2 linked regions of the Homo sapiens genome follow. The gene in region 2 interacts genetically with the main gene of each other region. Each region holds a gene or a part of one and is shown on either strand. Other genes may lie near its edges.

Evidence for each region.
Region 1: changes in PCDHGA2 (region 2) and FLT3 together harm fitness less than expected from each alone (positive genetic interaction), as found in Homo sapiens cells (one study listed by BioGRID).

Annotation. Positions count from the first base shown.
Region 1 is NC_000013.11:28,043,497-28,059,878, forward strand, and holds part of FLT3 (receptor-type tyrosine-protein kinase FLT3 precursor), read right to left. Parts: intron 13,967-16,382; coding exon 13,851-13,966; intron 9,428-13,850; exon of another isoform or gene 9,336-9,427; intron 9,179-9,335; coding exon 9,049-9,178; intron 6,727-9,048; coding exon 6,599-6,726; intron 6,279-6,598; coding exon 6,139-6,278; intron 6,042-6,138; coding exon 5,888-6,041; intron 4,948-5,887; coding exon 4,779-4,947; intron 1-4,778. UniProt on the Homo sapiens protein: Tyrosine-protein kinase that acts as a cell-surface receptor for the cytokine FLT3LG and regulates differentiation, proliferation and survival of hematopoietic progenitor cells and of dendritic cells.
Region 2 is NC_000005.10:141,325,070-141,342,151, reverse strand, and holds the start of PCDHGA2 (protocadherin gamma-A2 isoform 1 precursor), read right to left. Parts: upstream 3,393-17,082; 5' UTR 3,181-3,392; coding exon 757-3,180; coding exon of another isoform or gene 709-756; exon of another isoform or gene 1-708. Other genes in the region: PCDHGA1 (protocadherin gamma-A1 isoform 1 precursor), read right to left, coding at 9,047-11,467. UniProt on the Homo sapiens protein: Potential calcium-dependent cell-adhesion protein. May be involved in the establishment and maintenance of specific neuronal connections in the brain.

The sequences.
Region 1 (16,382 bases), on a different chromosome or scaffold from region 2:
AGGGGCCTTTCAGTAACAGATTTTTAAAAAATTGTATCACTTTGCCTATAAAATCTTGATACATGACTAAAATACTGTACTTCACAAACCAAATTCGGTTCAATTAAATTGTTGAATCTAGGTGGTAGGTAAAGAATGCTCATGCACTATTATTTCAACTTATTAGTAAATTTGAAACTTTCTATAATAAAAAGTCAAAAGGAAAGACGGGTGCAGTGGCACACGCCAAGTTGCAGCTACTCAGGAGGCTGAGGCGGGAGGATCACTTGAGCCCAGGAGTTAGAATCCAACCTGGGCAATATAGCAAGACCCTGACTCTAAAAAGCAAAAAGAAGCCAGGAAAGGTGGTTCACGGCTGTAATCCCAGCACTTTGGGAGGGCAAGGCGGGCAGATCACGAGGTCAGGAGTTTGAGACCAGCCTGGCCAACATGGTGAAACCCCGTCTCTACTAAAAATACAAAAATTAGCCGAGTGTGGTGGTGCATGCCTGTAATCCCAGCTACTCGAGAGGCTGAGGCAGGAGAATCACTTACTCACCTCCACCGAGAGGAGAATCACTTAATCACCTCCGCCAGGAGGAGGAGGTTGCAGTAAGCCAAGATTGCGCCACTGCACTCTAGCCTGGGTGACAGAGCGAGACTCCGTCTCAAAAAAAAAAGCAAAAAGAAGGGCCAGGCGCGGTGGTTCATACCTGTAATCCCAGCACTTTGGCAGGCCGAGGTGGGCGTATCATTTGAGGTCAGGAGTTCGAGACCAGCCTGGCCAACATGGCAAAACCCCGTCTCTACTAAAAATACAAAAAAATAGCTGGGCAGGGTGGCACATGCCTGTAATCTCAGCTACTAGGGAGGCTGAGGCAGGAGAATCACTTGAACCCAGGAGACGGAGGTTGCAGTGAGCCAAGATCATGCCACTGCACTCCAGCCTGGGCGACAGAGTGAGACTCTGTCTCAAAAAAAAAAAAAAAGGCAAAAACAAAGAAAAGTGGAAATTACCCCTGACTATAATCTAGTCCTCCATCCCCATCTCAACATAGAGCCTCATGTGGAGAGAAAAAGACATTTAGAGCACTCAGAGGCGTGTTCAAATTTTGTGTTGTTCGTTTCTTGTTCAGTACTTTGAGCATGTTTTCTCATGAAGAAGGAGGGCCCATCTTTCCTTTGCTGTGTGTCGTCAGTGGCCCATAACACCTGGTACATTATCAGTACCAACAATGCACATCATTAGCACAAACACTGTAGCTCTTCAAGAACTTTCAAATAACAATAAACACTGAGTACTGGGTGTTGTGCTAAGAACCATGTGCATGGTCCTTGCAGTGAAGAGGATGCTGTCGACTCATCTTTGGCCCAGACTGCACTGTGAGTTGCATTCCAGATATGATGATGAATTCATTCATTTATTAAACACACTTACTGAACAAGGCATTGTACAAAGATAGAGAAATATGGCAGCATACCTATTCTTAGAGTTTATAAACTCCCTGGTGAGATGTGACATACATACTTATCTGTTGCCAGATAAGTAGGAATGAGTGAGGTACAAAACGCTATAGGAGTCAGGAGCTCACCTAATTCATTCATTTGGCTACCTCTATAGGATAACAATCTGGGGTCATGGGTATGGATTGTAGCCATGGAATGAAACTACATGAAGCAGCCCACTACATTGGCCCATGACCCATATGTCAGTGACATGGTCCCCAACTGGCGATTCTGTAAAATCTCAAAAGGTTATACCAGATATCACCAGCACAGTAGCAATCTGTGTACATTCTTGCGGGAGAGGGAAAGCAACATTACCTTATTCACTCTTGCAGCCCATCACAGCATCACACCCATCAAGAGGATATTAAAGTAATATTTGTTGAACTAAATTGAATCGACCCCTTCTCTCTTTGAATCAGGTTCAGAAGAGATTCCCATAATGCTAAGAGCTTATCTAACATGGGGATAGGATACAAAGGAGAGAGGGGACAGTGATATGCTGATTTCCTTCTGAACACAGGCCAAGTGGTAATCAAGTCAACTAGGGTAAAGAGGGGCTGACTCTCCAACCTTCTACATTTAAAAGCTTGATGGGCCAGGCGCGGTGGCTCACGCCTGTAATCCCAGCACTTTGGGAGGCTGAGGCGGTTGGATCACTTGAGGTCAGGAGTTCGAGAACAGCCTGGCCAACATGAAGAAACCCCGTCTCTATTAAAAATACAAAAAATTAGCTGGGCATGGTGGCATGCACCTATAATCCCAGCTACTTAGGAGGCTGAGGCAGGAGAATTGCTTGAACCCAGGAGCTTGCAGTGAGCCAAGATCGTGCCACTGCACTTCAGTCTGGGCAACAGAATAAGACTCTGTCTCAAAAAAAAAAAAAAAGCTTGATATTTCTGAATAACAGCTTACGATGACTGTGGGTTGATGCCTCTAAGGCAATGGTTCTCAAAAAAAAAAAAAAAAAAAATGCCAGGGGTTATTTTTCTCAATTTGGCAGTGTCTGGAGATATTTTTGGTCACACTGGGAAAAGGGAATGTGCTCCTGGCATCCAGTGGGAGGAGACCCGGGATGCTGAAAAGTATCCTACAGTGCACAGGACAGTCCTTCACAACAAAGAATTATCCAGCTCAACATGCCAGCAGCGCCACTGTTGACAAACCCTGAGTTTGGGGGAGTGTGTTTCAGTCAGCTCCCAGACCAGTCTGCATTCTTAATTACTTTAAAAATGAATGCTCTGAACATTGGGGGGTTTCAGTAAGAGACAGTAGACAACTCCATGCAAACCCTGCACTGAGATTCTAAAAGTCCCAACAAGGGACTTTTAGTACAAATCCCTTTTAGGTATAAAGAGTAACAATAATCATGAAACAAACACTTAGCGGAATCAAGGTGAAAAGAACTCCTACTCTTCATCTAGAACAGGGCTAGCCAATGAAACAGAATGTGAGTCACAACTTCAAGCCTTGTACATCATTTACAAATTCTGTTGGCTGTATAAAGTAAAAGGAAGCAGGTGAAATTAAGTTTAATAACATATTTCGCTGAATGCGATATATCCAAAATACTATCATTTTAATATATAATCAATGTAAAAATTGTTTTAATTTTATTATTATTTTTTCTTTTTGAGGCAGGTTCTTGCTCTGCATCCAGGCTGGAGTGCGGTGACGTGATCATGGCTACTGCAGCCTCGACCACCTGGGCTCAATCAATCCTCCAACCTCAGCCTCCCAAGTAGCTGGGACTAAAGGTGTACACCACCACACTCAACTCATTTTTGTATTTTCTGTAGAGATGGGATTTTGCCATGTTATCCAGGCTGGTCTCAAACTCCTAGGATCAAGCGATCCACCCGCCTTGGCTTCATAAAGTGCTGGGATGACAGGTGTGACCCACCGAGCCCGGCCAATATAAAAATTATTAATAATATATTTTACATTCTTTTTTTCATACTAAGTCTTCAAAATCTAGTGTGTATTTTACAATTAGAGTACATCTCAATTTGGACCAGACACACTTCAAGCTCTCAATAGCCACATGTGGCTGGTGGCTACCGTACCGGACAGCACAGATCTAGACCTGTGATAGGAATCACCAAAGGTTCTCATTAAAAAAGCAGAGTCTGAGCGTTTTGCCCCAGTTTTGAGTCAGCATGTCTGGAATGGGAGCCAGGAATCCACATTTTAAACATTTGCTCAGATGATTCTTACACAGTTGTTCAACAGACCACATGCTGAGAAAGGATGATTTATTCTAGTCCATTGACTTGTTTGAAAGATAACATGTGCGTCTCAGTGTCTCATAGCCTAGTCCAAAACCATGTTCCATAGCATTAGTTTAAAGAGACAAGAGATGTCATAACTATAGAAGATATAGGGGAAAGTTGTTTTTTGTTTTCCAAAGAAGGAATGGAGAATTCCTCCCACAAGAGAATCTTTCGGCTGGGTGCAGTGGCTCACGCCTGTAATCCCAGCACTTTGGGAGGCCCAGGTAGGGTGAATCTCCTGAGCTCAAGAGTCCGAGACCAGCCTGCGCAACATGGCAAAACCCTGTCTCTACCAAAAATACAAAAAATTAGTCAGGTGTGGTGGTGTGCACCTGTGGTACCAGCTACTTGGGAGGCTGAGGTGGGAGGATCACTTGAGCCTGGGAGGTGGAGGTTGCAGTGAGCCAATATTGCACCACTGCACTATAGCCTAGGTGACAGAGTGAGACCTCATCTCAAAAAAAAAAAAAAAAAGAAAAAGAAAAAGAAAAGAAAATTTGTTGTTCTTAAAAAAAAGAATCTTGCATAGTTTCTCATACAAATCCCGAGGAAAACAACATTTTCCTTCAGCACTTACTATTGGGCTATTTCTGCATGTATTTTTTGAAAATTTAAATCAATACACCTATGAGTAATGTTTTTCTGTTTTTAAGGAGTTTTACTTCCTCAATCATCTGCAAATGTTTTAGGGGAGACTCAGTGTCCTACACACCGCACTCTCAAACAGGAAGTAAAAACTACCTTGTGACTCAGAAAATGCCAGAGAACCAGACTCAAACTAGACCAGACTAATACGGTTCTTTCTGTTTTCATGCAGCAGGTTATATTATCTAAAGTAATGGTAAGACTGCTACTGTATCCTCACATCTGCTTATTGTTTTCTTATCTCCAATTTCAACTCAATAATAGTTAAACTCATAAGTGAATTTGCTTCCATAAGTATAAAACTGTCCTTCTCAAGGGCGACAAGCAAGGAGAATTATGCTAAAAATGGTATCTTAGAGTCCTTTGTGGTCTCACCTGTATCCGTTATCAAGACCCTTTTGCTCACAAGGAAATGATTTTCGAGAGAAGGTCCACGTACATCTGATTTGTGGGTAGGCTTTAAACCTGACAGAAAAACAAAACTCTTCATATTGGTCAATTTCATAATCTTCACTTGAATTGGTAGCATTTATAAATCCCTTTTCTGTAAGAAAAAATAGGCATTTATGAGTTAGTTAATAATATTCATAGGGAAACGTATTGAGAAGATAAAATAAACTTGTATTCATCAGTTTAACACAGGAAAACTCAAGTGTTGGCATGCTGCAGGTCAGGTTGGATAATCCAAGTGAAAACCCAGGAGTCCTATCCCTAGTTCTAAGCCTGAGCTCATCATCTTTCGAAGTTAAGAAATGTTTAAAAAAAGAAAGAAGGAAAGAAAAAGAATGGGATGTAGATAATTGACTGTCTGGCCCCTGCTCTCAGCCAGCACCACTCTTCCATTGATGAGAGAGAGTAAAATAAACTCAAGGCACAAATAAAAGAGCGATCTGGCTAGCAATATTCACGAGGTTGCCTTATGGAACACTTCCTTATTAATCTGCTAAGAGCATCGCTGTATTTCTCGGCATTTTCATTATGGCTGAACGCTGTGCCCTAATCTGAGATTATTGAACTGTGGTTATTTTCAGATCCTACATACCCCACCAAAATTTCAGTGCATCTAAGGGCTTGTACTGTCTCTCAGTGCTCACTGCCCTAACAGTGCGGTTAGTTGGTTCTTAGAACTAGTATTTATTGTCCATTTTGTGTCAGGCTCTGTGTCAGGTTCTGGAACTACAAGGATAGAATGAGTTGTTCTTGTCCTTAAGAAACTTACAGTCTACTGGAGGATAAAAGTACACAAACAGATGGTCATATTACAATGTGTTATATGCAAAGACAGTGGCATTCAAGCGAGCCTGGTTTAACGGGAAAAGGAAGAGGGTGGGCAGATTATCTTTGCAAAGCTATTCTAACTCAGTTTCTTTCTTAGTGTTTGATAGTAGCATTATATTGAAATCAGAATTTGTACCACATACTTCACATTCCACACTACAGCGACTAAAAATAGGAATAAAGATTGTGTGAGCAGCCTGCATTACCTACGATGGTAACCAAAGCTGATTGACTGGGATGCTTTGAAGAGGAACAAGTGTAGTATCCGGTGTCGTTTCTTGCCACTGATGATACAAAAGCAAACAGAATCCGTATCATAGTTCTGTTTGTTGAATAGGTACTCATCTCAAAGTAGTTGCCCTAGGTTTTAATAAAACAGAGTTTGCATTTAATGTTTTCAATCCAGACTATTAGTTAATTGTTCCTGCATTTTCAGAATACAAACTTGTCCTATTACCTCCTCGAGTGCTTTGTTTTCTAATTCCCAGGTGAGCCCGAATCCATGGTTCACATGAACAGCTTTGCACCTTATCCATAAGGGTTCCCCTACTTTAAGAAATAATTGTGGCAATGTGGTCTGAGGAGTTTGATTTAGATCTAGGAGATGAAAACATCCCAAGTGAGAAAAAAAAAGTGATTTTTGCCTCATCACAAAAGATATCCTGAACATTCTGAACAAAGACTTTAGCATCATCTCAAATATTACTAACCACATTAATAAAAGAAGCTTTTAGAGACTGACTCCTCTTTTATGAAGAAATCAGCATTTACAGAATCCATAATATTGCATTTACTGTGACCTGAAGGAATGATAGGATTTCTGAAGTTGAATGATCACCTACGCAGTTACTGTTAGTCCCTGATAGTTGCTAAGAACCGGTCACTGAAAATGAAAGTGCATGATATTATAGTGTTACCTATTGTGAACAGCCTGGTGCATTCCCTGCCCAGTTCATTTCTGGCACAGCACCTTATGTCCGTCCCAAATAATTCATGAAGCACTTTTTCCTCCTTTTTAACAACAGCTGGACTTTCTTCTTTACAGCTGCAATTAGAAAAGAAGTACCATTTGGCTAAACAAGTTTTAAAATTACAAATGAATGCTCAAGAGGAGAACAAAGTTCTAGAGCCAGTTTTAAGGGTCAAATGGTAAACAAAAGGTCAAAAGGTAAACAAGCCCATATCTATGGTTTCAGCTAAGAGCTCAGAGGGGAGCTAGCTAGTTACTCATTATCGCAATGAATTAGCATAACACTAAGGAGAATTACATAACAAAACAGTTTAAAATTGTTCATGTTTGGTGATCTCTTTGTTGCTGTTGTTTAAAGACAGGGAAAGAAAGGGAAAAAAATGAGAAAGAAGATAAAGGAAAAAAAGAGAAGAAAGAGAGAAGAGAAAAAGCATGATTGGGCTTTCATGAAGTTTAGCAAGGTAAGCATCCTTTTGGGACGCAGTAAGGGAGGGGGAAGCTAAAGTTTCAAAAGTCACCCGAGTTCCCATAGGAACAGAGGAGGGCCAAGGTGTCACCCACAAGGGAAGTCAGCCAAGACTCCCAAGTATTCAACAGAGCAAAACCCCTCTCCCTGCCTCAGCAGAAAGCGAACTTTTGTACCACTTTGGAACAAAGTATTTGGTACTTTTTCTCCTTCTATTTGGTCCTATTTTAAAAAAAAAAAAGTTGTTTAGTAAATTTTAATTAGTTCAAACTGCATGAATTTTTACTTTGTAAGAACTTAACTTTGGCATATATGAAAAACTATGTAAACATTTATACCTTACTTAGTATTGGCTAGGCACTGTTCTATGTGCTTTACATATATCAATTCATTTAATCAGAATAGCAATCCTATAAGTATCTGTTGTCATCCGCATTCTTCTGATGAGGCACAGAGAGTAAGTAACTTGTCCAAGGCCACACAGCTGCTAAGCAAACCAGGGTTCAAACCCAGGCTATCTGGCTCTGGATTCTATATCTTTAAACAATCATATTAGACTGCTTTCCCAGAACAAACAGGATAATCAGAAATTAAACATTTTGTCACAAGGAATTTCTTTCTTCCTTTCTTTTCTTTTTTTTTAGATGGAGTCTCACTCTGTCACCCAGGCTGGAGTGCAATGGCGCGATCTCGGGTCACTGCAATCTCCGCCTCCCGGGTTCAAGCAATTCTCCTTCCTCAGCCTCCTGAGTAGCTGGGATTACAGATGCCCACCACCACACCTGGCTAATTTTTGTATTTTTAGTAGAGACGGGGTTTGACCATGTTGGTCAGGCTGGTCTCGAACCCCCAACCTCAGGTGATCTGCCTGCCTCGGCCTCCCAAATTGCTGGGATTACAGGTGTGAGCCACTGTGCCCAGCCTATAATTTCCCTTTTTTTTTTTTTTTGAGATGGAGTCTCGCTCTGTCACCCAGGCTGGAGTGCAGTGGCGCGATCTCGGCTTACTGCAAGCTCTGCCTCCCAGGTTCACGCCATTCTCCTGCCTCAGCCTCCTGAGTAGCTGGGACTACAGGTGCCCGCCACCACGCCCGGCTAATTTTTTTTGTATTTTTAGTAGAGATGGGGTTTCACCATGTTAGCCAGGATGATCTCGATCTCCTGACCTCGTGATCCGCCGGTCTTGGCCTCCCAAAGTGCTGGGATTACAGACGTGAGCCACTGTGCCCAGCCTAGAATTTCTTACTTATAAGATAATTCTACTTTAAAATCAGTATCTTTCTTTTTGCCCCAACCAGATGCCCAGGGAGCCAACAATCCTGGAACGTAGAGGGACTTTTACTTGTGTAGCATGATGCCCAGGAAGGGCCCTGCAGTTGATTTGAGGGGTTCCAAAAAGCCCCTTACCAAAAAAATCCTTGTCCTCCCTGTGAAGCCCACATTGGCCATTCTGTATTACTTATTTATTTTATTTTTTTAATTTTATTTATTTATTTTTTGAGACGGAGTTTCGCTCTTGTTGCCCAGGCTGGAGTGCAATGGCGTGATCTTGGCTCACCACAACCTTTGCCTCCCAGGTTCAAGAGATTCTCCTGCCTCAGCCTCCAGAGTAGCTGGTATTTTAGGTGCCTGCCACCACACCCAGTTAATTTTTTGTATTTTTAGTAGAGATGGGGTTTCACCATGTTGGCCAGGCTGGTCTCAAACTCCTGACCTCAAGTGATCTGTCCACCTTGGCCTCCCGAAATGCTGGGATTACAGGCGTGAGCCACTTCACCCGGCCCTATACTGGCCATTTTTTAACTTTAAGAAGCCAAAGTTTCCTGTTTAAATGAGCATAAATTAAATTTTACATACAGCTTGATGTCAACTACATTAGAAAAAGGCCAAAAGGAAATTATGAGAATAGCAGCTACCATGGATGTGTCATACCTTTCCCCCTGTGAATCGCAAAGCACCCATTCCACGATCGGCTCTGGAACGCTCTCAGATATGCAGACCAGGGCGTCCTGGTTTTCCATTTTTCTAAAGTAAGGTCTTCTTAATGTGTAAAGCAGGGTATCTAAAGCATCATAAGTTATTAACATTTTACTATTTTAAAAATAATTCTCTTAGCAGCCCCTCAGAAAAGGATTCTATGTCATTATGAAAAGTTCTCAACCATTACGTATACATATTTTTTTCTTTTTTCATAATAAAGGCATCAAAAGCAAACCAACCATTATATTAAATTTAGCTGTGGCTGCAGTGTCAACTTGAACATTTCTCCTCTTGGCCAATTTCTTTGGGTATTTCACAAATCCACAGCTAACTAAAGTAGTCGAGTGAAGCCATGTGAAAATACAAATATTGATAGGCACAGGAAAAAGGAAATTAGCAATAACATATGGCTTAAACCCTTGTTTAACACATAGTTTAGACCTCAACTTTCTTCCTATAATTTGATCTGCAACTAGGCAGAAATATACTAAGATTTAGAAAGACAGAAGAAACATGGTAGGGTGGAGTTGGAATTGCAACAGAACTTAAGAGGTTTAGTTGAGCCTCCCACTCACCCTGGATCACACACACACACACACACACACCATCCTTCACTCCCAGCTATTTCTAACATAAACTTTCTACTTCTACTTTGACTCTTCTAGAGACTGGAGTTCATGACCTCCCAGGGCAGGTCATTCTAATTTCTGACAAACTTTTTTTTTTTTAAAGAAAGTTTCCCTATACTGAATTCCAGCCTCTCTCCTTACAATAAATTTTGTTTGAAAATACTATGTACTGTTTGATATATATATATATATATGAAAGAATATATGGAGTGTAAATTTCAAAGCATAACAACAACAAATACCCACGGAGCCACTATCCACCTAATAACTAGAATATTAATAAATACCTTTTGATCTACTTTTATGCTTCTCCCCACCTCTCAACTGCACGTATCCTTTATCCTGAATTTTGTTGATTATTCGAGGACTCTTCAAAGTAGTTATACCAAATAAATATGTGGCACTAAACAATATATTGATTTTTTCATTCTTGAGCTTCAAAATAGTGTTATCAATCAATATGTAACTTCTACAACTTCATTTTTTCATCCAACCTTATGTTTTTAAAATTCATCCATGGTTTTACATGTAGCTATACTTTATTCATTTTTTTTTTTACTGCTACATAATATTCTATTGGTAAATATATCATTATTTTTTCATTTTCTTGCAGTAGACATTTGGGTTGTTTCCTTCCGTGTGTGTGTGTGAGACAGGGTCTCTGTCACCCAGGCTGGAGTGCAGTGGTGCAATCTCAGCTCACTACAGCCTCAACCTCCCAGGCTCAAGTGATCTTCCTGCCTTGGCCTCCCAAAGTGCTTGGATTACAGGTATGAGCCACCACACCCGGCCACAGTTTTTTGTATGATCAACCATGTGCTCTGAACATTCTACACATTTGTACTGAGGCATGTGTATAACAGTTTCCTTAATAACATTCTTAAGAGTGGAACTGCTGGTCTACATGGTATGAGCACATTCAGCCTTACACATAATGATCATTTGTTTTCCAAAGTGGTTATACTAATTTATGTTACACAGCAGGATATGAGAGCACCTATTGCTTTATAGACTTACCAAGACTTCTTAATTTTCAGCAATCCAGCAAGTATAAAATGGTATTTCATTGTGGTCTTAATTTAATTTCTCCATTATTAATTTAACATGTGTTAAAATAATTAATTGGGAGTCCATTAGGCTGAGACAACTCTAACAGCTTGAGTTCCTAGGTAAACAAATCACAACACAACTCAAAAAAAAAAAAAGGAAAAGAATAAAGGCCGGGCAAGGTGGCTCACGCCTGTAATCCCAGCACTTAGGGAGGGTGAGGCGGGAGGATCGCTTGAGCCCAGGAGTTCGAGACCAGCCTAGGTAACATGCCAAAACCCCGTCTCTACAAAAACAACAACAACAAAAAGCAAAAAACAAACCCAATTCAATATGAGCAGCAAAATGCAACTTAGCTTAATCAATGAGGAACTGCAAACTGACCAATCCAGGGACTGTCCTTCTTTAAACAATCAAATTTTTTCTTTGTCTTGCTTCCGGGAACACATTATAGAAAGAAGTCTTACCCTTGAATCTCCTCACTGGAGCCCACCTGCTTGCCATCTGGTACTGCCTGATTCATGAATTGCTTTCTGCTCAAATATACTCTTTACAACTTTAAAGTGCCTAAGTTTATCTTTTAACATGTTTCTTGACCATTTAGGTTTCATGTTCCAAAAATGAAATGCCTACTCATGTCCTTTGTTCATTGCTCTACTAGGTTTTCATTTTGTTCGTTTTTCTTATTGACTTATTGACTTATATAGATTGTTTATCTTATTGACTTTACATATTATGACTATTAATCCTTTGTTGATTGTGAACTGCAAGTATTTTTTCCCATCTTGAGGTGATTTTTACTTTTTCTCCCTGTAATTTCTAACAATTGGTTCTTATCATATCCTCTAGAGCAACTTTTTTAAAGTCTAGCTTTGATTCCATATGAAAATCTTTCAAATATTTAAAATCAGAAACCGAGATCAAGGGAGATAATTACCATACAAGGTACTTTAACTAGTTAGCTCAGGTTTCCTGACTCAAATCCCAAAAGAATTTCCTCTGCATTACACTGCAATCAATCTTATCGTCTCCTCAAAACATTTCCTTCTATATACTACACATTCCCAATTCCTTCAACTGCTCCTAATTTAAAGAATTCCAAGTTTTCCACTATCCTGGTTGCTCATTTTGTCAGTATTCATCTTTAAAAAAGTAGAACTGAAATGAATAAGCTTCTATTAATTTCCTTAATTTAGACGTTATATTTTCATGAACACTGCCAAGGTTCAAATTTACTTTTTTGGCAACCATGCCACGCTGGTGGTTAATACTGAGCTTGTGGTTGACTAAACCCTTTCCTCTTTTTCACACTGACTGTTGCCACATCTCTCCCACCTATTTTTTGGATCCCACCACCTTGCAGAATGCTAAAAATAAGTTATAATTTACCTGAATAACTGTTGTTACATTTTTACATTGTAAATCTTAAGTGAAAGGAATATACCCTAAGTATAACAGAGACACAGCAGATGCCCACTTACCTTATACAACTGTTTATACTTGGCAAGAAAATTTTAAAAGGAGAGAAAAAAGGAGAAAGAGGAAGAGAAGTAGAGAACAAGAAACGTCCTAGCTTCATCCAACCTGGGGCACGTATTTACTGTCCCACAGAGGCGGTGAGGGACTAGAAAGGGGGCAGGGAACATGACCGACATTAAAGAGCAACATAAGGTGATTCTCGGCTTTGGAGCTTGTAGGGCTCTGGTCCTATCATTTTCAGAGTAATTAAAGGACTTTCCAGAATAAATTTTGGGTAATTTTGACTTTAGCTCATGTATACCTTACAGGCTGACTTTAGAACCTTACTCCACCCCCAACCCCAGTAAGATGATGCTTCTGGGACTCTTGCGTGCTCTCTTCTGTTAGTAGCTTTGACAGCAAGACCCACACATTCTCACACAAGACCCAGGGCAGTGTGGTGCAGAAAGCCTCCAGCTGTGCCCACCACCACACCTCTCAGAGGGGCTGTTTTCTCATCTACATGCATGCAGGATCGCTGTGAGCATCTGAGATGAAACAGGCAGAAGATCTTCAGCAAAGGGCAGTTGTGGTTACTCCTGACCCAGGGCACCTCTGTGGGCCGGACATTTAGTCACTGACAAGGAAGAGGGGAGCCTGGCAAGTTGTGTCAATGTGTCGGGGGGACCTAATTTCAAGTGATATTAACCCAGGGTTTTTGGAGCACTGCACTGGCCCCTAAAGGCACGAGGACCTAAGTGAATGCAGACACCTTTAGTCCTTCTTGGTCATGGAAGGCGAAGCAGCAAGTTCAGTGTGCATAGCACGGAGTCTGTGCATGATGGGGACGAAACAAGGAGAAGCCAGAAAGCACACGCAGGTGGTGCCTCTGCCAACTGCACAGCTGCCTCCCTTGGTCAGAACATCTGGACCGTTCCTTACAGTTTGCATATGGTCTAGCACGCATGTGGGCCCGCGCTGTCCAACACAGTAGCCCCTAGCTGCATGGGGCTATTTACATTCCAATTTTAACAAATTAAAATTAAATAAAATTAAAACTTTAGTTCCTCAGTCACCTTAGCCACCTTTCAAGTGTTCAACAGCCCCATGTGGCCAGTGGCTACTGTATTGGAAAGAACAGACAAGATCATTTTCATCATCTCAGAAAGTTCTATTGGATCACGCTGAGACCTTCCAATCCTGTGAGGTACGTATTTTTATCCTCATTTTACCAATAAGGAAATCGGGGCTCAGAGAAATTGTGACCTGCCATAGGTGGTAGTATCAGAACCAGAATTAGAACAGAGGTCTTCTGATTCCAAGGTCAAAATGTTTTCCATTTCTTCCCTGTCAGCCATCTGCTACTGAACAGAGGACGTCCCAGGCGTTTTTAGCAGCAGTCACATTCTGAGAGCCCACGGCACACATCAGTGATTCATCAGTGATTCTCAGTTCTCTATAGGTTCTACAGAGGGTTGACAGGAATCTAATCAATCCAACTACGTATCAAGGGAAACCTGAATATGTCTAGAGGAGCTGGTCAAGCTAACGGGTTCTAAACCACTCCTTTGAAATATTGTGGTATTCCAGGCTGGAATACTAGTAGCAGGCTGGACTTACTTCTTATACTCACTGTAAACAATATTGTGTAATTGGTAGCTTCACTCTGAATAAAAAGTAGGTATTCTCCAGCTTGGGTTTCTGTCATTTTCAAAATGACCATGGAAACAACTCCTCTGCAAAACAGGAAAGAGAACTAGTTATTTTGGAAAATGTGTGAAACTAAAAACAAAATTTCATAGTGACTAAAAAGGCAGTTTGGTACTCCAGCGTTCCCCGACTGGCACGGAAGCCGCTCTGTGGAGAACACAGCTTCTGTCATGTGCCCAGCACTCAGCCTGGGCGTTGCTCGTTGAACCCTGACTTTTAACCAGTCCTCCCCTTGAGGGTGGGAGAGCTCCATTCCGGTGCCATCATCTCACCTTCTCTGAGCTTCTAGGATCGAAAACTCCCATCTAAAAACACACAGGAGGCCGGGTGCGGTGGCTCATACCTGTAATCTCAGAACTTTGGGAAGCCGAGGCAGGCAGATCACCTGAGGTCAGGAGTTCGAGACCAGCCTGGCCAACATGGTGAAACCCTGTCTCTATTAAAAATACAAAAATTAGCTGAGAATGGCGCAGGCGCCTGTAATCCCAGCTACTCAGGACACTGAGGCAGGAGAATTGCTTGAACCCAGGAGGTAAAGGCTGCAGCAAGCTCAGGTCGCACCACTGCACTCCAGCCTGGGTGACAAGAGTGAAACTCCGTCTCAAAAAAAAACTGAAAAAACAACAACAAAAGCACAGTAAGCTGGGTGCAGTGGCTCACACATGTAATCCCAGAACTTTGGGAGGCCAAGGCTGGCAGATCACTTGAGCCCAGGAGGTCAAGACCAGCCTGGGCCACATAGTGAGACCCTACCTCTATTTTTTAAAAATTAAAAAAAAAAAACAAAAAAAAAAACGGCCAGGTACAGTGGCTCATGCCTGTAATCCCAGCACTTTGGGAGGCTGAAGTGGGTGGATCACCTGAGGTCGGGAATTCAAGACCAGCCTGACCAACATGGAGAAACCCTGTCTACTAAAAATACAAAATTAGCTGGGTGGGGTGGCGCATGCCTGTAATCCCAGCTACTCAGGAGGCTGAGGCAGGAGAATTGCTTGAACCCGGGAGGCGGAGGTTGCGGTGAGCCAAGATCATGCCATTGCACTCCAGCCTGGGCAACAAGATTGAAACTCCATCTCAAAAAATAAAATAAAATAAAATAATAAAATAAGTTCACACTTTCTGACCTTTAGACCCTTAACTGTGCAAAGTGTAGTCTTTCTCTAACAGTGTTAGCATCAGCTGGGAGTTGACAAAGATGTAGAATCTCAGGTCCCACTGAGACCTACTCATCAGAATCTGCATTTTAAACAAGATCCCCAGGCAATCCAAATACAGGTTATATTCGAGAAGCCCTGCTTTAAAGCAGCAAGCAGGTTCAATAGAACATGGGCCTGCATTCTTAAACACAGTCAATTAGCAGGATATATACTTGATTTGCTTCTGCAGATCTATTTTGATGATATGCTTTTTTTCTCTGAACCATTCGCCTGGCATGAGCCACCACGTCTGCAGTCGCAGAAGTTTGGGAGGCGAGGTAGGAGGATCACTTGAGGCCATGAGTTCAAGACTAACCTGGGCAACATATTGAGATGCCTTCCCAATAAAAAGAAAAAATGTGGCTGGCACTGTGGCTCACGCCTGTAATCCCAGCACATTTGCAGCCAAAAAACAAGAAGTGAGTAATACAATCGCAAAAGAGGAAAGGAAAATGAATGCGTTCCAAGATTTAGAACTCAACTTCAGAACTATACTCACTGTCCTGCAAATCACTTAAGAGAAGAATGTATTTGACCTTAAAAACAAATACAAATAACTGGTACAAGTTGATCACAGAGACGTTCTCCAAGACCCTATCAAGGGGCCCGATACCCCTTGCAGGCCATTTGGGTACTGTTTACTACATAGTTCCTGGAAAGCGCGTGCCTTCTCTACACCTAAGGGACAACAGGACAGCCACAAGAATGTAAAAGAAAGGCTGCGTTAAGAGGGCATTTAATTGACCTATGTCCTTTGCCCCATCTCATTTCGGCAAGAGGACAAGGACAGCAGGGGGCAGCAATCAGCATAGAGCTATACAGGGTTAGGACATTACCCACACATCTTGGCTAAGACATTTTTCTGGATGAGATCGATGTTCCTCACAGACAGATCAATGTCTTACTAAATAATCTGTAGATAGCACATAACATTGCAATTCTGCTTATCATATTGTGAAACAAAATAGATAAGATCAAATGTTCTTTTCCCAAGCATTTCCCAAGAATAAATTTCCTTTAAAAAAATTTTTTTTTAAAGAATTTCTTGGCTGGATGCTGTGGCTCATGCCTGTAATCCCAGCACTTTGGGAGGCCGAGGTGGGCAGATCAAGAGGTCAAAAGACGGAGACCATCTTGTCCAACATGGTGAAACCCCACCGCTATTAAAAATACAAACATTAGCTGGGCGTGGTGGCAGGTGCCTGTAATCCCAGCTACTCGGGAGGCTGAGGCAGGAGAATTGCTT
Region 2 (17,082 bases):
AATACAGTATGGTTCCCACGTATGAGAAAGATAAAAAAAAAGGAGAAACCTGTTTATTACCACTCTACAGCTTTATTATAGAGCAGATGATAAGTCAGTCACTTCTTCAAGAAGCATATAGCTTAGAGGTTAATGTGATTTTTAAAACTAAGCCAAAATAATATGACATACCTTCCTGAAACACTGTAAGGAATGTATATTTCTAAATTTCCATATTTTTAACAGGGAAGGGCATGCAAGTTAAGGAAAACAATTTTGCTGCCAAACTGAAAGAAATGTATTAAGACTGAATGAGAAAGAACTAGCCAACTAACATGTTTCACTGTTCATATACAGATTCAAATATAGAGTAAGAGTCATAACTTAAAAGAAGAAAGGACTTGAGTAAACATAAACTCCAATCTTTATATTTTTAACAAAGAAAAAATTGTTGATCTGGGTGGATGAGATGATTTGCCCAGGGATGGAGAAGAAAGTATAAGAAACCAGACACCCTAGTTCCTAATGCAGTGCTCTTTGGATAATCTTATCTATTAACTCCTGGTTTACATTCATTGCACAAAGATTCTCACGTCTCTTCTTCCTCTTACAGCCTGTGAACACTAAGACCTACCAAGAAATAATTCACCAAGACTCACTTCCTAAAACTTGACTCTACCCTCAAGGAAATATGGGGAACAAAATAGATATAGTAAACAAGTAAGTGAATTACTTCAGCAAACTAGCTAGTACGTATGTTGTGAAAAGATAGATTACCTGAGAAAACGTTTCTTCTCTTTCTTCTTCGAGTAGAGATTGAGGCGCTGATAAAAAATCCTTTTTCTCACAGCTCTCCTGGCTGATGAGCGTGTCCGCATAGTTGGGCTGGGGGAAAATCAGGTGGCTCTTCCGCGAGTCCGCAGTGAGGGAGACCTCGTGGGAATAGGTCTGCAGGAAAGCCCGAACCCCGTCCACGCCCACAAAGTGCGAGCTCTGCATGCCTGTCAAGCTGCCTCCTGAAGCCTGCAGCAGGCGTGACTTGTGCCAGCGCCGCAGCCTGTGCGCCAGCAACACGATGACGAAGGCCAGGAAGACGCAGGAGACCGCGGCCACCGCCACCACCAGGTACAGAGTGAGGTCCGAATCGTTGGGTATGGCGGAGGGCTCGAGGCTGCCCAGGTCGGCCAGGATGTCGGGGATCCTGTCGGCCACGGCCACGGTGAGCGTGACAGTGGCGGAGAGAGGGGGCTGGCCGTGGTCCTGGATGGCCACCACGAGGCTCTGCTTGAGCGCGTCTCTGTCCAGCAGGGCTCGCGCCGTGCGCACCTCGCCCGTGTGCAGACCCACCGAGAAGAGTCCCGGCTCGCTGGCCTTGAGCAGGTGGTAAGACAGCCAGGCGTTCTGGCCCGAGTCTCTGTCCACCGCCACCACCTTGGTCACCAGGTAGCCGGGCTCTGCGGAGCGGGGCGCCAGCTCCACGCCAGTGGAACCGTCTGTGGGGAAGGCAGGGTACAGGATCTCGGGCGCGTTGTCGTTCTGGTCCAGCACGAACAGGCTTAATGATACATTGCTACTGAGTGGAGGGTTCCCGCTGTCCCGCGCTATCACCCACACTTGCAAGTCTCGCAACTGCTCATAATCAAAGGAGCGCAGTGCATAGAGTACTCCAGTGTCGGAGTTGATAGAGATGTAAGAGGATAAGGGTGCCCCCTGAACAGTGTCCTCCGCGAAAGAGTAAGTTACATGAGCATTGTCGTTGCTGTCGGGGTCATGGGCCGTCACTGAGAAGACAGAGGCTCCTCTGGGGTTGTTTTCGGGAATGTAGGTGGAGTAGGATGTGCGGGAGAAGGCGGGTGCGTTGTCGTTGATGTCTGCCACCTGGAGCAAAATGTGAGCATCCGTGGACAGGGAGGGGTTCCCTCCATCTTTAGCGGTTAGAGTGATGTTGTAAAAGGAAAACTGTTCCCTGTCAAGGGCTCTGGTTGTAACCAGTCGGTAGTAATTGTCTACTGACTTTTCTAACTTAAAAGGAAGATCCTCGGGGAGTGAACAGGTGGTGAATGCGTTCTGCCCAGAGTCTCTATCATGTACATTAAAAAGCCCAATTATGGTTCCTGGAAGAGAGTCTTCAGAAACTGAGCTAGTAGCAGATGTCATGTAAAATTCTGGGGCATTGTCATTCACATCCAGAACCGTGACGATAACCTTCGCTCTGGTTAGAAGGCCCGGACCATCCTGAGCTTCAATATCAATTTCATGGAATGTAGCATCCTCATAATCTAGATCTTTTATGATTGTCAGTTCTCCAGATGTTGACTTAAGCTCAAATACCTCTGAGGTTTCTCCAGGGCTTTTCTCTAGAAAATATACCACTTGAGCGTAGTAGCCCTCATCTGCGTCAGTGGCGGTCACCGTGAGTATCCGGGTGCCCACGAGCGTATTCTCCGGAATGCTTATGCGGTACTCGGGCTGTGTAAAAACAGGCGCATTGTCGTTCGCATCCAGGACCTTCACGCAGATGCGGGAGGTGCCAGATAGCACTGGGTCACCCCCATCAGAAGCCACGAGAACGAGGTGGTGAACAGCCTCTTCCTCGCGGTCCAGAGAGCGCTCCAGCACCAGTTCTGGGTACTTGTTCCCATCAGCTCCCCTTCGCACGTCCAGGGAGAAGTGGTCATTTGGGTTGAGTGCGTACTTCTGAAGGGCGTTCTCACCTACGTCTGCATCATGCGCATTCTTAAGAGGAATCCGGAATCCTGGCGTAGTGGTTTCACTGATTTTTAGCTCCAGTTCCTCTACTCCAAAGCGAGGGGCATTATCGTTAATATCTGTTATTTCCACCTCTACTGAATAAATAGTCAATTTATCCTCCAGCAGAATGTTAAAATTCAACAGACAGGGTGCGCTCTGAGCGCAGAGCTCCTCCCGGTCTATCCTGTTCGCAGTGACCAAGCTGCCGCTTCGCGGGTTCAGAGCAAAGAGCTGGGACCTACCTCTGGAGACGATGCGGACTCCCTGCTCTGCCAGTGCCAGGGGCTCCAAACCCAAGTCCTTGGCGATGTTGCCTACGAAGGAGCCTCTGTCGATCTCTTCCCGCACAGAATAGCGAATCTGCCCGGCCCTGGCCTCCCACAGGGTCGCCAAAAGGAAGCACAGCAGGACCAGCTTTCTGCAGTGTGGCAACTTTTGCAGAGCCGCCATTTCCCTCCTGTCGCAATTTTCTCCGAGTCAACTTCCAGCATCCAGTGCGGATTCCAATCTTTATTCCTCAGGGTGTGAGATAACCAGCATTCACGGGACCCAGGTCCCTATGGAGAGAACTGGTGGGCTGTTCGACTGAATTTCTTTGGTGTCCTGAAGCTTTAGGGCCAAACCTCCACCCCCTTGTGCTGTGGGAGCCGTATTGCTGGATTGGATGTCTCGCTGCCTTTTACTCCTTAGGTGGTCAACAGCGACGCTCAGAGGCCTAAATAATTTCTGCACCTGCTCAGGAAAACCTAAGTTACTTCTTGTTTGTTTGCCTTTGTTGACTTTCAAGGCGCTTTAAAGAATCTTACAGCTCTAAGATACCCTAGAATTAGATCTTTCAAAACAGGAATCTTTTTATCAGGATTAATAAGAATGGTATAAATGAACATGATCTTGATAATAGTTGCTAGGAAAGTATTATTGACTGCTCAAGGCATTAATCAATGCCACCACTGCCCTTGCTCCAAACATCTTCCATCTCTTATTGTATAATCAGAAGCAGTAAGATCAATTAAGAAACGTTAGCTACGTTTTCTTCTAAGGTTATATATTTTGAACGTTTATGGTTGATGGCTTTGCATTTACCTTCAAAATCTGCCTTTAAATTATTGAATCATCAGACACTTAATTGGGTACATGTGCCTCCCACTTTGCATGATTGCAGCTGGAGCTAGAAATGGTGAACATGATAAACACAGGCCCTGGTCTCAAGCGTGAAGGTTGGAGGAGGACATAAGAAAGTAAAGAGAGTATAATAGAGTATGGTAACTGCTGTGATATGAGGTAGGAAACACTGGGTGATGGAGGAATACCTAGGAGGGGTATCCAGTCTAGATTTGGGGTCAGAAAAGTCTTTTTGAGGGCATGATTGAAGCTGAATCATAAAAAGTAGGATTGAATCAAGAAAAAGGCTGAAGAAGTGTTCTAGAACCTCTGAACAAATGCTTGAAGGTAAGAGACAGCATGGAACATTACAGAAACAGAAAGCAGGTCTATTTGATAAAGCTAGAGCCGGAAGGGGTTTTTCACCACACTAGGAATCAGTCACTCAAAATTGTTTGAGGTTGTCAAGTTCTTTTTCTGATATTCATTTTCCAAGGGTGTAAAATACAATGCAGTGGATGTCTTCTTACTCTTGTTTCATCTTTACCATTTTGACCATAGTCAAGCATACAATTCTGTGACATTAAGTACATTCAAATTACATTCTGGTGTGACCATTACCACCATCCACTTCCAGAACTTTTTCATCCTCCCCAACTGAAACTCTGTACTTATTAAATAGCAACTCCCCATTGCCTTTCACCCAGTCCCTGGCAACTACCATTCTACCTTTTTTCTCTATGAATTTGACTAATCTAGGAACTTCATATATGAGGAATCATACAGTATTTGTCATTTTATAACAGGTTTATTTCACTTGATATCATGTCTTTGAAGTTCGTCCATATTGTAGCATGTAACAGAATTCCCTTCCTTTTTAAGGCTAAATAACAGCCCATTGTATGTGTGAACCACTTTTTATTTACCCATTCATCTGTCAATGGACACTTGGGTTACTTCCACTTTTCAACTATTGTGACTAATGATGCCATAAACATAGGTGTACAAATATCTGTTGAAGTCCCTATTTTCACTTCTTTTGGGTAATAACCAGAGTGGAATTGCTGGATTATATGGTAATTCTATGTTTAAATTTTTGAGGAGTCACCATACCATTTTCCACAGCAGTTGTGTCATTTTATATTCACCAGCAATGCACAAGAATTCCAATTTCTCCATATTCTTGTTAACATTTCTTTTCTTTTCTTTTATGACAGCAATTCTAATGAATGTGGAGTAGTATCTCATTATGGTTTTGATTTGCATTTCCCTAATGACTAGTGATGTTGAACATTGTTTCATATGGTTTTGGCCATTTGTATATCATCTTTGGAGAAATGTCTATTCAAGTCCTTTGCTCATTTTAACATCCAATTGTTTGGGATTCTTTGTTGTTGAGTTCGAGTTCTTTATTCTGGATATCCATTCTCAGATACATGATTTGGAAACATTTTCTCTCTTTCTGTGGGCTGCCTTTTCACTCTATTGATATTGTTCTTTGCTGCATATAGTTTTTAACTGTGATAAAGTCCAGTATACAATTTTTTTCTTTTGTTGCTTGTGCTTTTGGTGTCATATCCAAGAAATCATTGCCAAAAATCAATGTTATGAAGGTTTCCTCCTGTTTTCTTCTAAGAGTTGTATAGTTTTAGTTCTTAAACATAATAACTAAAAGGGTTTTATTGCTTCTGAATATTGCTTCTTTGATCCATTTTGAATTAATTTTTGTATGTGGCATAAGTGGAATTGCCCATTTCTGGTGACACTTTAATCTGTTTGCCTTTTGGCTCCTTCCTTATTGAAATTTTCTCATTTTTACTTTCATCCATTCCTCTTACAAGACTGAAGAAAAATATATTGGAAATAATTGATACCAACTCACCATGTTTTCTTGTAGAGCTACTATGGTATATTTTGCTTTTGTTTTTTATTTTTATTTTTGTGTTTGTGTTTGTGTTTTTTTGTTTTATAGAGATTGGGTCTTGTTATACTGCCCCGGCTGGATTCAAACTCCTGGGCTCAAGCAATCCTACTGCCTCAGCCTACTCAGTACCTGGGATTATAGGTGTGCCATTGTGCCTGGCTCTCTTACATGAGTCCTAACGTTAGACTTGACAGAATTTTCATTTTCTCCCCACTGGTTTTATTACATTTATTGTCTGCTTCCATTATTTCATCCTCAGAACTCTTCCATGGTTGCATTTCAAAAATGTAACTCTTTGTTATTTTTTCCATCATTTTATTTTAGTATATACTCATTGTATGTTTTTTATCTTACTTCTTGAATGGCAAGCTAAATTCATGTATTTTAAATAATTTTGTTTGCTTTTAAAAAAATTATTGCATTTGTCTATAAACTTACTCCTAATTAGTTTTAGTTGCATCTCACAATTTTTAATAAAGAATATTTAAGTCCTTTTTTTCTGAGTAGTTTTCATTGTCATTGTGATTTTTGAAATCCAAGAGTTATTTAAGGGTGTAGATGTAAATATCCAAACTTTTTCCCTTTTCTATTTTTAAATGTTTGCTTTGTGATTAAGTATGTGTTGTAAGGCAAGTATATTATTGGTACTTTGCAATTTGCTGAACCCTTTTTTGTAATGACTAGGTAATAAACTTGTAGATTGTCTGCTTGTTCAAGGATGACTATTCCATATTTGTTGTGTGCAGAACGGATCTATTAGAATCCTAATAGATCAAGCTTCTAAATTATGTTGTTCAAATCTTCTTTATGTTAACTAACTTTCTTCCTGTGGGGTCTATTATTTCTTATGGAATTATGTTTAAATATTCCGGTATTTTCTAAGCTATATTTTTCAGTAATAGAAGCTTATATTTTTATATCCTTTTGATCATCTGCTCTTTTTACAACTATAATCAGTTCATTTTTTAAAATCACAATTTGTGTTTGTTACCTTAAATATGACTTTGTTGTTACATTAACATGACTTTCTTTTTTGTGTGTGTACATATATATTTAGTTTCACTGTTTCAGTGTATTTTTATTTTAAGCACGTGTATTATTAGAATATGGATTTTAAAAATCAACCAGTTTTGTAATATTTGTCCTTTAATAGGTAAATGTAGCTCACTTGTATATACACAGAAAAAAAATTATGATTATAAGAGCTGAGAAAGTCCAGAAGTGAGATAACTTAGTTATCAATTGAGAGTATACTCTTGGTACCAAGCAAAAAATAAAAATAAAAATGCAACAGACACACAGCAAGAATGAGAGAAAGTCTTCAATAGTTACCAGAGAGAAAACAGAGATTACCTTAAAAAATAACAGTGTGTTGACAGAAAGTTTCTCACTAGTAACAATAAATTCTACGAGACAAGTGTGTTTTGAAATTTTGGTTTGTATATTTATTTTTAGTGGAAGAGCTCTGTTTGTTTTTAGTTTTAGTTTGTTTTTTTCTCTTCTACACTATATCCCTCTCTCCTTCCCTCCTGGGTTCAGTGCTCATTTGTAATGGTTTTGAAATAGTTTCTATCTGACCTCAGGTCCCAGGCCATAACTAGGTCTCTTAATGACGCTTTAATGATGCACAGCAGTGATATTCTGGATACCACAGCTCACATATGAGATACTTGGTGTTCGCTGTCTCTATCCAGCATCCGTGTCTGTCTCTCTCTCTTGGTCTACACAGCTTACGAAGAAAGTTATAACCACCGGAATTGGGAAACAGCTTTTATTATTATATTTATTTATTTAACAGGGTGTGGCTCTGTCGCCCAGGCTGGAGGGCAGTGGCGCGATCACGGTTCGCTGAAGCCTTGACTTCCTGGGCTCAAGGGATCCTCCCACGTCAGCTCCTGCCCCGCCCCGCCCCGCCCCTCCCCGCCCCGCGTAGCTGGGACTACAGTCGCAGGCCGCCCTGTCCGGCTGGTCTTGAACTCCAGGGCTCCAAGGATCTTTCCGCCTCAGCCTCTCAAATTGTTGGAAATACAGACGTGAGCCACTGCGCCCAGCTAGGCAGCATGTTAATGCATCTTTCTTTTCCTTTTTAACCAGCTGAAGGGCCTCATTGCTTATTTTGGATTCAGGCAGTAAGCCTGGTCCAGATATTTATCTAGTCTGAAGCACTTCTGTCCCTATTACATTGCTGGAGGCAGTTTCCTAACCTTCAATTTCTGCTTTTAAGTCCAAGACTATAACTCACATGGCTTTAGACTAGCTCACCACTTTGCTTTTGCTTTCCTCTTATATTTTATGTATCTCTGTATTTTATTGGAGCAGAGTAAATACATCAAAGCATGGACTTACTCCCCGACCATACTTTTTTTTTCTTCTGAAAAGTTAACACACATTAAAATAGGATATATACTTGATTTTTGTTAGCTGATTTCATTACAGGTATAATGTATAAGTCAGGAGGCTTCAAAGATATTTCTCAAGTTGCATGATAAATTTTGTGTTGTTCATTTTGTTACTTCATACATTACTTAAATAGACGTATTCTTCAGTACAGGCACCACAGCTCACACCTGTAATATCAGCACTTTGAGAGGCTGAGGTGGGAGGATCGCTTGAGCCCAGGAGGTAGTGGCTGCAGTGAGCCATGATCATGCCACTGCACTCTAGCATGACCCCATCTCAAAACCAAAAAAATCTGATAATAAAGATAGAATAAAAGGCTAAAATATTCAACAATAATTTAAAATTGCAGTTTATATAGATCTCTATAATCTTATATGAACACAACTAAAAATACTACTTTAGACAATCTTCACCTCTTCAAATGTCCCCAAATAAACTATCACAGTGTCCTGACAGATGACATCTACATTAAATTCAGGGGTAGATTAGCAGGTACTTATAAAAAGAAAATTTGAAAATAGTGTTAGTCATTTAAATATTGGTGAGCCTTTTCTAATCAAACCTTTTAGCCCAGAGGCAAGTAAGAAAATGTTAGAAGCTAGATCGCCGTTTCTAATGCAGTGCTCTTTCCAAACAGAGATGGCATCTCACACATACCTTCAACCCAACCACCTACATTATGATCACAGTCTCCTTTTCAGTGCAAGAACAATTATAAATATACCTGCATATGAACGTGTAGACTCAATCGTGATTTTGCAGGACTTGTAATAAAAAGCTACAAAGATACATGGGTTAGAAGAACTATCTGTAGCAAAGAGCGAACGCTAGTAAGTTAAATCAAGAATTATTTTTCTCTAGATAGCTGATACATTCATCACAAAAGTTTACCTGAGAAAATGGTTCCTTTTTGTCTTCAAGTAAAGACTGGGGTGCTGATAGAAAACCCTTTTTCTCACAGCTCTCCTGGCTGATGAGTGTGTCCGCATAGTTGGGCTGGGGGAAAATCAGGTGGCTCTTCCGCGAGTCCGCAGTGAGGGAGACCTCGTGGGAATAGGTCTGCAGGAAAGCCCGAACCCCGTCCACGCCCACAAAGTGCGAACCGGGCATGCTCGCTAAGCCGCCTCCCGAAGCCTGTAGCAGACGTGACTTGTGCCAGCGCCGCAGCCTGTGCGCCAGCAGCACGATGACGAAGGCCAGGAAGACGCAGGAGACCGCGGCCGCCGCCACCACCAGGTACAGAGTGAGGTCCGAATCGTTGGGTTTGGCGGAGGGCTCGAGGCTGCCCAGGTCGGCCAGGATGTCGGAGATCCTGTCGGCCACGGCCACGGTGAGCGTGACAGTGGCGGAGAGCGGGGGCTGGCCGTGGTCCTGGACGGCCACCACGAGACTCTGCTTGAGCGCGTCTCTGTCCAGCAGGGCTCGCGCCGTGCGCACCTCGCCCGTGTGCAGACCCACCGAGAAGAGTCCCGGCTCGCTGGCCTTGAGCAGGCGGTAGGACAGCCAGGCGTTCTGGCCCGAGTCTCTGTCCACCGCCACCACCTTGGTCACCAGGTAGCCGGGCTCTGCGGAGAGGGGCGCCAGCTCCACGCCGGTAGAACCATCTGTGGGGAGGGCGGGGTACAGGATCTCGGGCGCGTTGTCGTTCTGGTCCAGCAGGAATAGGCTGAGAGACACGTTGCTGCTGAGGGGCGGATCCCCACTGTCCCGCGCCATCACTTTCAGTTGCATGTCCCGGAACTGCTCATAGTCGAAGGATCGCAGCGCATACAGGACCCCAGTGTCGGAGTTGATGGAGAGGTAGGCAGATAGGGGTGCCCCCTGGATAGTGTCCTCTATTAGGGAGTAAGTGATTTGTGCATTCTCATTGCTGTCCAAGTCGTGGGCCCTCACAGAGAAGATGGAGGCTCCTCTGGGGTTGTTTTCGGGAATGTAGGCAGAGTAGGAGTCCTGATGGAAGACTGGGGAGTTGTCATTGATATCTGTCACTAGTAGTGAAATGTGAGTTTCAGTAGATAGAGCTGGAGTTCCTTGGTCTATTGCTGTTATTGTGATGTTGTACCCAGAGATAAGTTCTCTGTCCAGTGTTCTTTCAGTCACTAAACGGTAATAATTATCAACTAACTTTTCCAATTTAAAGGGTAAATTTCCAGGAATGAAACATGTGGTGTAGCCATTGTCTCCTGAGTCCTGGTCATGCACACTGATAAGAGCAATTATGGTCCCAGGAGGAAAGTTTTCTGGAACTGCAGTGGTGACAGAGGTGATGGTCACTTCTGGGGCATTATCATTTACATCCAAAACTTTGATCAGTACCTTAACTTTAGCCATGAGCCCCGCACCATCCTGGGCTTGAACTTCCATTGAATACATTTTGTATTCTTCGAAATCTAGTGGTTCTTTATTTGATATTTCTCCTGTGTAAGAATCTAAACGAAATATTTGGGCCACTCTGTGGTCTACATTGTGAAAGGAGTACGTTACTTCCCCATTGGCTCCCTCATCAGGGTCAGTGGCATTTACCATGAGCAGCTGAGTACCCAGCGGCACGTTTTCGGGGACATTTATATGGTATTGTGCCTGAGTAAATGCTGGAGGATTGTCATTTGCATCCACCACCTGAATGTAAATTCTGAGGGTCCCTGAACGGACTGGTTCACCCCCATCAGAAGCTGTGAGGATGAGGTGGTGGACAGCTTCTTCTTCTCTGTCTAAGGGACTCTGCAGCACCATCTCTGGATGTTGAGGCCCATCGGCTCCCTGTTGCACATCCAGGGAGAAATGAGGGTTAGAGCTGAGTTGGTAGCTCTGGAGTGAGTTCATACCCACATCAAGGTCTTGCCCAAAAGGCAATGAGACTCTGGTACCTGGAGTCGTTATTTCATTCATTTTAAACTCCAGTTCCTCTAACTGGAATTGGGGAGTGTTGTCATTAATATCAATTATTTCTACTTCAACAGGAAAAAGCTTCATTTTATCCTCAACAAGGATATTAAAACTCACGAGACACGGCATGCTCTGAGCGCAGAGCTCCTCCCGGTCTATCCTGCGCGCGGTGATCAAGCTGCCACTTCTAGGATTCAGAGCGAAAAGCGGCATCCTACCTCTGGAGACGATGCGGACTCCGCCATCTGCCAGCTCCTGGGGTTGCAGCCCTAGGTCCTTGGCGATGTTGCCTACGAAGGAACCTTTGTCTGTCTCTTCCGGCACTGAGTAGTGAATATTCCCAGCCCCAGCTTCCAACAGCAGCTCCAGAGAAAGACACAGAAGCATCAGCCTGCTGCAGCCAGTCAGCTTTTTCTGAATCTTCATGGCTCTCTCACTTCGTAGTTTTCTTCCAGTCCAGTACCAAGGGTATCGTTTCTGCTTTTCTGAGCTGAAATTAACCCAATTTTCAGGAGAATTCTGACTGGAGAGTCATCCAGAAGTAGGATTTAGGCAGTCTTGGACAGTCAGTTTTCAATCTGGCGGTTATGGAGGTTCTAAGAGGCACGAGAGCTTTTTTCTTTTTCTTTTTTTTTTTTTTCCTCCTCCTGACCTGTGTGTACTGCCTGTATCTACCAGATTAGTGAACAGCGGCGCCCACAGTCCTAACCAGTTACTGCATTCCTAGCAAATACTGAAAACCTTCTCATTAACTTGTTATTTTCTTAAGTTTTAGTCTATTGTCAAGGAAATAATTCTACAATATATGTATGAAAAAGAGAAACTATATGTTCACTTCTTTAAATGTGCCTAAATGTCACCAAATTGAAATATACAGGAGAATCCAAGTATTCCCATGTTATCTGCTTTCCAAGTTTGCTATTCAGGGAATTATAGTAAAAACCTAACATTACAATGAGGACAAAATCATCTCTCCACTTTTTCTGTAGTAAAGTTTGACCACTTGGTAATTTCCCAGGCCACATAGAGCAGCTCCCCTTTGACTGGAGGGTGAAAAGTATTAGAGGGAAAAATAATCTTTTAGAATATAAGCTAGACTTTAAAAAAATCATACCATCCCATTTCCTTCCCATTATGATTTGAATATTTATCAGAAACCTTGGGATTTTGAAGAGCATGGTTTAACCCTATCCTTATTTTTCCTCTTTTTTTTTTTTGAAGTGTCTTTGCATTATGTGGGTTTTTAAAAAATTCTTAAGATTCACCAAAGGCAATATATTTTGAAAAAAATAAAACTGGGCTCTTGGAATTTCATTGAAAAGTCACATGAATATATAATTTAGATTTCAAATTTCAGAGACAAAGTCTATGATATTATTCTTCACAGCTGAAAAGAAAAATGGTCTCATCTTTATTTTTAGATAGGCTCTTATAATATGTATTCCTCTATAATCGCACTTAATATTTTCTCCAAGAGAAGTTGGTTTTCTCTTAACAGTATTTTTTAACCAGTTGAGGATGTGGCCTTCTTTTTTTTTTAATCACTGCACTATTAGCAAAGGGTTACTAATTAAAATGTCTCAGGCTTAGAGTGACTTACTTATCTTTACCCCAAAGTTAGAGAAGCATGCTATCTGTACTCCAGAGTCTGATAATTTCAGGAACAAATTCGGCCAGCCAACCCATGGACACCATGACTGAGAAAAGTTAAAAATGAGGAAAGAAAGAAAACAATGAAAGGTCTCAATAATAGTTTTTGGAAAGAGAACTTTAGTTCTTAACCAAATCTACAGTTTCTCAGCTTCTCAAAGACAAGTACATGGAGCCAAAGAGTAGAAATTTAAAGGTGCAATAAATCATCTTCAATATTGCAAGGAAGTAACTCTTTAACAGAGAATGTAACTTTTCAGAATACACATTAATAGGCATAAACTTTTCCCCAAAGAAATTGTGAGCTAATGAGGTAAATTAAAATATACATAAGAACTAGTAAGTAAACCTGTAGAGCTCCCTACTTTCAGCAACCAAAAACACGCAGGAGTGATTTATAAAAGGATGGTAAGTATAAAATAAAAATGTTAAAATATCACACAAATACATTTGAATCAAATGCAACATTTAAAGCTTCATTGCTGCCCACACACAGTGGCTCACGCCTGCAATCCCAGCACTTTGGGAGGCCAAGGTGGGCAGATTACTTGAGGCCAGGAGTTTGAGACCAGCTTGGTCAATATAGTGAACCCCGTTTCTACAAAAACAAAAATAAAACAAAGCTTCATTGCTGGCACTGCAGAGAATACCTGGTTCAAAGCTGTTTCTTGAGTTAAAGAAATTAAGATTTTAAAAATATCTAAAACCACACATACGTTGTAGGAACAGGGCAAATTTCCTTTCTTTAAGTTGGAGACAACTCCATATCCGGGCTTGGACCAGAGATCCAGCTGAAAACAGCCCCAGGCAATGGAGCTATAGGGGGCATTGCAGGTTCAGAGAGATGGCCAGAGTCACACTGAGGAGAAACAGCATGGAGATCAAGGCAACGGCCATCGCCAGCTGTTGGGTGCTGTCTGCTGCCTGCTGTTGGGTGCTGGGCGATTGCTGAGGTCTGGTAGCAACTCCTGCAAACTATGAGCAGCAACCAGGTGATGTTTCAGCGTGATGATTCACCATTGACCACGGTGACCAACAAACCTTGGCAGGTTGCATCTCTGTTACCCACAGTGACACGGCACGCATCTAGCTCGTGCACATCCCTAGTTTGAAGAGCCACATTAGCTGGCCTGAAGCACATGATAGGACAGTCAGCCTTTATGCCCCAGCTGGTGTCCACTTTGGTGATGGGATAGCTGGGTTGCATTGTGAGTGGTGCAGCATCAAAGAGGGCCCCACTTGGCTGCAACTCCTGGCATAGTGTCCTTGCATTTTTGCAATGGTCATCCACCATCACATGCAGGTTCAGGATGACACTGAGCAAGTTGAACCCTGGTCACTGGCCTGCAGAGTCAGCTCAAAGATAGTCTGCATGGTAACCATAGCACTCTGCACTCACTGACATGTAGAATGACAGTGCCCACAGTGGCAGGTCACTGGTCAAGAAGAAACAGGAGGCATATGGGACCCTAAGTTAGGGTGGGAAGCGCTAAAGCATGTGATGGAGGTGCTGGGCAGTGTTCCCAGTCACCCAAAAGAAATAGGAGGCTTGTTGAAGAATGAGCATTTTTGTGGATGCAGATGGTATGCAGGGTGATGCAGGAGAGGGACAGTTTGTCCTTGTTGGTGGTTCTGATGGTGACATTGTCCTTCAGGGTCTGCTACCAGTTTAGAATTCCATCTGTGAGTATCTGACAAAGAGTCACATCATAATTCTTGGAGGTGAATTGTTTGCCAGTATGATCATTTCTCTCTATAATAACTTTCATCTTTCATTTAAGGTCTCTTAGTCCTATTGTTTTGGTTAGGGCAACCACAGTTTTTACCTCTGATAGGACTAGATACCCAGCTGAAAGTCACCTGCACTGACTGCATTATACTTCTCAACCTTCATTTCAACCAGGACTCTGAAGTCGGCCCTCAAACTGCCTCCAGTCTTCTATTCCAAGCTATAACTGTTACTCTTCAAAATCAAGTATTTCTGTCATTATTGGACAGGAAATATATTCTGTATGCCCTGTAAAATTGTGTAGAAAAATCAGGAGAACTCTATATTAAAGATATTGTCTAGGTCAATGGGGATCACCTAAAGAATGAAGAGGAGGAGGTGGCGAGCAGGTTCTCCTGCAGGCTAACCCCACTTACACATTGCTCAATATCTGACGGCTGGCATTGGCATCCAAGGCCTGTGTCTTGCCCTGAGCTGTTCTGCCCCATCCCCACCACTAAGTGGTGGCAGCTCTGCTCCTCTGGTTCAGGGTTTCTTTTCTTTTCTTAAGAGATGGGGTCTGGCCATGTTACTCAGGCTGGAATGCAGTGGCTATTCACAGGTGTTCTCATAGTGCACTGCAGCCTCTAGCTGGCATCAAGCAATCCTCCTGCCTCAGCCTCCTGAGTAATGGGGACCACAGGAGTGCCACGCTGCACAGGCTCAGGGGTTCTTCAATAGCAGCAATTCAGAGTACATACTGCTGTAGTACTCTCCTTTACTTGTAGGGGAAGGGGAGATGGCTATTAAAACTAATCTGATATATTTGTACAGTTACTGCCGGTGTTCAAAATCTACTGCAGACTTAAGAGTAAACATTCCTCTTATTAAGACGTTTTTCAAAATTTCCAAAACAAAATTTGTGCTAAAAGCCATTTTGTTATTTATATCAAAGATGCATACGTTTATATGAAAACATTTATACGATTTTCAGTGCCTTCAAATTCAAAGGGCCGAGGGTCTTCCTTGGGCATAACTGCTAGATCTATCCCGTCATTCTCAAGCTCGGCTCTGGCTCGTTCTCTGGCTGTAAAGAGAGGCTTCTCAGCACTTACCCTTAGTTCTTTCCGTCACCGAGACGCAGATCTTCTGAGAGATTACCAACCTTAAACCCCTAGCCTTCTCTTCCAGAATTTTACAGCGTATCGGCTACGTAGAATAAAGACCTAGTAGAATAAAGATCTCAGGCAGGGAAACAGCGCTTCCTGCGCTCCTCACGCCTTCCTTATGGGGGACTTCTTCCTCTGTTTCTTCTTCCTGCTGATACTCAGATCCGAATACCTCTCGCTACCGTTGCTCCCTGCTTCCTGCTTCCAAAGATGCTCAGGAATAAAAGGCAGCACCTCACTCGGGGTCACTAGACATCCTGAGATTCCTGACCAAGATATTTCGAGCAGATTGTGAGACAGACAGCGGGCAGAGTCCTCTCCTAATGTGTGTCTCAAAAGCCTGCGGGGACTGCTGCGTCAGTGGATTGCTTTGTTTCCCTCCAGCCACGGATTGGCGGACAGCGGCACCCAGAGGCCTAGTATGATATCCCTAGCAGGTTAGTTTTCAAGGTCCTCAAAAGAGACTGTATTGGCTTTTTTCTCGAGACATATTTTAAAATACCAGCTGCTTTACTAAGAAGGGTACAAATCATTGTTTTTGATAAAATATTAGCAAAATGATCATTTCACAAAATTTAGTTCTAACGTTTTATTAAAATTCTTAATTTTTTTTTTTTTTTTTTTTGAGACAGAGTCTTGCTTTGTCACCCAGGCTGGAGTGCAGTGGCACGATCATGGCTCACTGCAACCTCCGTCTCAAGGGTTCAAACAATTCTCCTGCCTTAGGCTCCCTAGTAGTTAGGATTACATGTACACACCACGATGCTCAACTAATTTTTGTACTTTTAATAGAGATGGGGTTTCGCCATGCTGGCCAGGATGGTCTCGAACTCCTGATCTCAGGTAATCCGTCCGCCTTGGCCTCCCAAAGTGCTGGGATTACAGGTGTGAACCACCGCACCCAGCCTAAAATACATTAAAATTCGACTAAGAATTCTTACAAATTTTTCCCTCTTGACATTTCCTTTTCAAGATGACACACTATTGAAACTTATTTTCTGTAAAAATGGCTACTCAAGAAATTATCCACTGTAAAAAAATTATAAAAAATTCTCACTGTAAATTCAATATATTAAAGGAGAAAATTTCACTATAAAAGGTAGAAAATACTGATAAAAATGTAAAATTATGAATAATTGCATTATGTAACTACTGATATAAAGAATTTACATTCGATGCTTATCCATACTTTAAAAATAGATATATACTTTCACAATTACAAAAATAAGCAGCTCTTTTATGGATACTATTGGTTGCTCATGCCCCTTTTTCCTCTTGTAACACTTCCTTTTAGTTTAGGTGTTCGCCCTTAATGTACCTAGGGAAGCAGAACCTATTCAGAGCTGTAGTAGGTTCTGATAAATTTAATCTAATAATGATAATCTCATCCTCTTGACAGTGCTTAGTTAGGAATATAGACTTAAAATAATAAGCTTAAAGCAGGGCTTCTCAACCCTGGTACTATTTTGAGCCATATAATTCTTTGTGGTGGGGAGCTGTTCTGTGCCTTGTAA